2 linked regions of the Homo sapiens genome follow. The protein of the gene in region 2 purifies or fractionates together with the protein of the main gene of each other region. This does not show direct contact. Each region holds a gene or a part of one and is shown on either strand. Other genes may lie near its edges.

Region 1 (2,663 bases), on a different chromosome or scaffold from region 2:
GCTGGGACCATAGGCGTGCACCACCATACTCAGCTAATTTTTAAAATTTTTTGTAGAGATGGGGGGGGGGTCTCCCCATGTTGCCCAGGCTGGCCTCGAATTCCTGAGCCCAAGCTATCCTCCTGCCTCAGCCTCCCAAAGTGCTGAGGTTATAGGTGTGAGCCACTGTCCCTGGCCTATACGGTCATTTTTTAAAAGATATTTTAAAATTAAAAGCAAACAACACTGTCCACCCATCTACCTGTCCAGGATAAGGCATATTTGGACGGTGAACGGATTTACTCTCGTTCATGCATTTGAGCGCTTCACAGAAGAGTCTTTCTTGCTCCAGGCATGACATTTTTTTTCACCAGACGTTCACTGACTTCGTGACTTTGAGGTGAGACATGGGATCTCTCAGAAGCGTCTCTGCATCTGCATTTCAGGAGATGAGCTGCTGTCCCTGGTGGACAGAGGCGGTCTCTGCCATGGTCACCATGATGCCCTACAAGTGTTTATTGAGTCCCCTGGGGGGCACCCAGAATACCACCCAAAATAGCAAGAAGACCCGGTCCCCGCCTTGCGGACGATGCACTCACATGCCACAGCAACCCATTCTCGCCTCTTCCTTGGCCGGGAACCCGGGGCTCTAGGGCTGCTCGCTGCTGCTGTGGCCTGCGCAGCCACGGGAGGCTTCCTGAAAGGCATTGCTCGGAGGGGCGGGGGCGGGGAGGCCTAGCCTGCCCCACAGACACAGCTGTGAGGCCTGGGTCATACACATACCAGCAAGCAGCTGCCGAGACAAATGGTGGTGGGAAGTCCTGGGAACACACACAGCCTTTGCATTGACAGCACAAGTAGGATCAGAGCCCAGGTGAGCCCCTGAGGATACCGAGGCCTTCCCTCCCTGAGGCCCGCAAGTCTCCATGCGTCTCCCGGGAGCCTGGCCCCGCTGCAGAAATCCCTTCTCTTCCTCCACACCCTGTCCTTTCCCCAAAGGCTCGTGTTATCAGTTCCAGCTACCCATCGACTTTCCCACCGAGCCGCTGCCCTCAAAACGGAGGGGGCACCGCAGCCTCCTTGAGCCTGGCATCCCAGGCCTTGCCAAAGGGGACGGTGGCTTCCTGGATAATTGGAAATCTCTGAGAAGAAGAGGAAACACCTGAGTGACACTCAGCTGTCCTCTGGGGTCCCCTGGTGTGCATGCACGTCCTCCTGAATACCTGTACTTCCAAGAGGTGGTCTCCTGTTTTCATAACCCAACACTCTGAGATAGGATCTTCCAACTTTTTAGCCCCGGCTGTGGAAAGATAGTGAGTATGAAGTCTTTGTGCATTTGGAAGTGACATCGCTGTGTGGATTATGAATACAGAGAGCTGCCATCTTCCTGATCACAATAGACCACGATTGCAAAGCCTCCTCTCCCAGAGACCCCTTCTGCGCCTGCCCTCCCCACCCACCACCCAGCTGTTGAAGCTCAGCGTGTGCAAGTCAGACCCTGCACAGGCCGGGGGTGTCTCACCTGGCCTAAACGTAAAGGCTTGTGCCGGAGACAGTGATTGAAAACATTTGAAAAGCCAGCTCTCCCTGGCAGAGAAAGACACTTCCCCCCCAAAGTGGAATTTAGATGTCTTTCCCTAGTCCATCAAGAAGTCATTTTTGTAACAGTCCCTAAGCGAGTGTTCTCAATTAGAAGAGTTTAGTGGCTTTTGGTGTTGTTAAAATAATAAGAATCCTTCTAGCATCCAAAGCTTTCTAATTTTTTTCAGGGAGATTTGGACATTAATGAATGGAAACTTCCACAGTGGCGGTCACTCCTGAAGGCAGCGGCTTCTGTTCTCCCGCTGCTGTAACTCTGTGTGTTCCGTCTATCGCGTCACAGTGCCGCTGGATCTAGATGGAGCCACTGTTGTTGTTTTTAAAAGAGAAATAAATTCCTTAATGGAAGTAGCATGGCATCGGCATCTCTCTCCTGCTGCTGAGCTCTTGTTCTGTTTCTTCTGCATACGACAGCTGTCCCCAAGATGCCTGTGGCCTTTGGGCTAACCCTTTCCTAAGGTTGACAGTGGAACCCACCCAAACCCGGCCCCCACACTGACCACCCCCTGAACTGCCCACAGATGGCCCAGCTCCAGTGGGCGGGGCCCAAGAAAACCTGAATTCTTACCAGGCCGCCGGCTTCTGATCTCAAACCCAGCAGATGGTTCTAGAAGTGCTCTGGCCACTTGGCACCAAGGAGGAGCTGGGTGACAAGGGCTCGAGCCAGTGCCAGCACCATGACACCAAACGGCGCATTTGCAGGTCCCACCTGCCCGGTCTTATACAGAAGAGGCGGGCTCTGCAGAGGGAGCCTTTCTGGCTGTCCAGGCTTCGCCATGCCAGGCACATGCTGGAACGTGGGGTAGCCAGTGAGGCACAGCGGCCCTTGCACCTCAGAACTGGGATTCCCGATCTGGGACCCAAGACCTCTTCTGTCTCCCTCGACCTGCTTGCCTTAGCTGTTAGAATGAGCAGGGCTTACTCTGAGATGTTTGTTTTAAAAATAAAGGTAAAAATAAATTTTAAAAATAAATAAATAAATAGAATGAGCAGGGCTGGGACTCAGCCAACACCCTATTGATGATATATGACCTTAAACAGGCCACTCTGAGCCTCGGTGTCTTCATCTGTAAATGAGATCACAC
Region 2 (3,551 bases):
GTGTGACTGCCTTCCCCGCCAGGTCAACAGTTTCCCAGGGAGGGACTTCATCTCACTCTCTTCTATTGTACACCCCGCCTCCGCTCCCTGTGGTGGCCTTGGCTCCAAGCACAGTGGCATCTGGGCTCAGGACCATGCATTTAACTGGACTGATCTGAATACAGTTAGCCACCTGATTAAAAACACCGGAAAACCAGGTGTGGGCGCAACAAGGCTGTCTCTCAGTCCTGATCCCAAATAAGGAGGCAGATGAGACTGGGGGACGCAGGGATGGATGCATAGGAAGGGATCATGGCGGAGTTGTCAGCCAGGAATCATGGGGCTGCCTGTGTGCTGCAGGTGCCAAAGAGACCTCTCTGCAAGCCACACTCCCCCTGGCATGATCTCATTGGGCCCTTCACTTCTCACTCCTATTTCTGGAGGGATGTTGTTCCCTGCTTCTCAGCTGAGACTCTGGGCCTGACATCCAGATTGTTTTGCTATGCTCAGACCCCCAGAAGCTCCTCCTGAACTTGATCCTTGAAACTTGAGCTACTATAGAAAATAGAATAACAATTAATAGTTATTAATTATTGAAGTATTTAATAACCAGCAAGGCAGGGGCACCGGCCAATCGGAAGAGACACATAGCACAAGACTGGCATCTTGGGGGCCCCCCCAGTGCCAGTCATTCACCGCTCTTTGCTGGTCTGCAGGGAGCTCCAAGGGTCATGGGAAAGGAGGTGGGTATCTGGACTGGGGTGGGGGAATATTGAATACTCAGGGCCACTGAGTATTCAATATTCTTATAATAGATACATTCACACTGGGGATACTGGCTAGATGTCAGCCTCATCGCAGCTCACTTGGCTATCAATCCTGACTGTTTTATGTACGTATATATTTTTTCCCAATGCACAGATAAACTTACAGAGAAAGAATTCATTGAGGGGACACTGGCCAATAAGGAAATTCTGCGACTGATCCAGTTTGAGCCTCAAAAAGTGAAGGAAAAGATGAAGAACGCCTGATGCCAACTGTTCAGCTGTCCTCCCTCCACCTACCACTCACATGACACCCGTGAGCGCCTGTGCACACACACACACATGCACACACACGCGCGCGCACACACACACACACACATCCACCCCAGGGCCAAGAGAAAGGCCTGCACACAAGCCCACAGCACAGCTCCCTGCCAAACTGAAGCATCTGTAGTGACCCACTGGTTCCTTCTTCCTGGGTCTTCAGCATTCCCTCCCATCATGCCCGGTCCCACCCCTCCCTCTGTCCACCAGCCCATGGCCCTGTGCTAATCCCAGGATTAGGCCATAGGAGTCCTAAGTGTCACCCCGCTGTAAGCTCCTTTGTGGAGTGCTGGGTAAGCAGTTTCCAATAAACGCAAGCTGAGCTGGGCACGTGGCTGCTGGTCATCCTTCAACTGGAAAAGGAAATGATTTCTATCAGTCACACCTCAAAGACAAGGCTGTGTTGCGATGGCAGCCCTAGGCTGGGCTGCTTTGGTGCGGAATGAGTCTAATGCGGTCCTGCTGTCATGGAGCTCATGGTCCAGAGGGGACAATGAACCTGGAAGGAGCCATGACCAGTGGCCCAGGTTACCATGGAAACGTGCAGAGCACCAGGGGAGGACACAGTGGAAGGGGCTGACTTGTCAGGGGGGATCAGGGACCACATCCCTGACGAAGGGAGATTTAAATTCAGAACCACTGCACACGAGGCGGGGGACGGGGTCGGGGTGGGGAAGTCTCAAACAGAAGGCGGCCAACACAGAGCCGCTGAGGCATGAATGACCATCTCGAGTTCCAGGAGAAGGTCGGGGTGGCTGGAGGGTAGAAGGAGGAGGGAGAGCAAAGTGTGAGCTGAATCTAAAAGGTAGGCGGGGGCTGGACCACGCAAAGCCCTCCCTGCAGCCTGTGGTAAGCACTTGGGGGCTCACCATGGGGACAGCGGTGCCACTGTGGAGTTGGAAGTAGGAGGGGTTTATGTTTGTAAGAGAAGTCCCCAGCAGGCTAAAATAAGTCAGAGAGGAGCAACTGGGGGCTCCCTGGAGTCAGGGAGCCCGATGAATAAGCTTTTGCAGCCACTCAGATGGCCTGGGCCAGGGGAAAGGCAATGGGATGGAGAGGACCAGATCCAGTGAGGACACATTTAGGAGGTAGCATCCACCTGGCTGGCTGAGGGGGCAGGAGGAGAGAGGGCAGGAATGGCAGCCAGGCCTGTAGCTTGGGCAGTGGGTGAATAGCAATGCCATCTATGGAGATGAGAAATACAGAGAGTCTTTGGGGTTTCAGGGAACAATGATGAATTCAGCTTCAATATAGTATGAGGTGAAGGCAGAGCCATAGATGGCCCTAAAGCCCCTTGTTTTAGAGACAAGGAAAAGGAGTCCCAATGACAGGAAGCAGCTTGCCCAAGGGCAGCCAGCTGATGAGCAGAGGTCAGGCAAGGGCTACCCACCGGCCCCCAACTGCCTCCTCAAAGCTCCAGGGCCTGGGATACCCAGGAACTCCATCAGTGCATTCTCCAAGATCCCTGGATTTGTTGCTTTGAAGGCCCATTTATTCTCCAGCCTCAAGTTCCAAGATGAGGTCAGAAAAATGCATGGATACCCTGGATTCTTGACTGACCTGTCTGCAACCTCTTGAGGCTGAGGAGTCTCTAGTTGCTGGTATTGTGGTGATGCCTCCAGACCCCACTTTAGCCACAGAGATGACACAATCACCACTGCCAAAGAGCACTCCTCTGTGTGGAGAGCAAACGTGAGAATAAACACTTATGAACCGTGCACCATGCTAGACTCTGCCATCATTATTTCATTGATGGAGATGTTATTATCTGCACAATACAGATGAGGATACTGAGGGCAGGAAGTGTGAGTAGGAGTTGGTACTTAAACTGGAGTCCCTTTGATTACACCAGATTTCTCCAATAGTTTTGACCTGGACACAGCAGGATAGAGAACTCTAGGATTGCACAATGTCAGAGATGGAAAGGGGAAGGAGGCTACAAGGCATGAGTCCAGAGGTTCTGGGAGGAGAAGGATTATTACTAGAATCATCTACCCAAGGCATTCTCCCATGTAGACATAGTGGGCTATATAGAAGCCAGTTCAGTGGGAGATAAAAGACTCTGTGGGTCCAGTCCAGAGTGTTCTAGGAATATAACCAAAGGGCTCAATGCTCTTTCCACCACACTCCATGAATGAATCTGGTTGCTTCGAGGATGAGGCTGGGGGCTTTTCACTTCTCTCTGAGGTCAGTCTATCATTGTCACTTGAGTCTAAAAGGACAGACACTGCATAATTAGGTCCTTGCTGGTTTGTGGTTCAATGGGAGAGCCAAAGAGTGAAAACCTAATTAGTGCCTCTTTTTTTAGCTTAGGGTGGAAGGACCACTTGGGCTGAGATTCTCTACAGCTGTATGACACTTTGTGGAAAATAAAGCATGAAGTTCAACTTGGCCACAGGGAAGAGGAGGTGGAGATAGTGATGAGCTATGTCATCAAGACTCTTCCAGATGCAAAAGGTAGATGACCTGGCACAAATTATTGTG

The links.
Region 1: the proteins of RCVRN (region 2) and GRK5 purify together in Homo sapiens (affinity purification with western blotting, with the first as the bait; one study listed by BioGRID). This does not show direct contact.

What each region holds. Positions count from the first base shown.
Region 1 is NC_000010.11:119,457,817-119,460,479, forward strand, and holds the end of GRK5 (G protein-coupled receptor kinase 5), read left to right. Parts: 3' UTR 1-1,929; downstream 1,930-2,663. UniProt on the Homo sapiens protein: Serine/threonine kinase that phosphorylates preferentially the activated forms of a variety of G-protein-coupled receptors (GPCRs).
Region 2 is NC_000017.11:9,895,554-9,899,104, reverse strand, and holds the end of RCVRN (recoverin), read left to right. Parts: intron 1-900; coding exon 901-1,010; 3' UTR 1,011-2,785; downstream 2,786-3,551. UniProt on the Homo sapiens protein: Acts as a calcium sensor and regulates phototransduction of cone and rod photoreceptor cells. Modulates light sensitivity of cone photoreceptor in dark and dim conditions.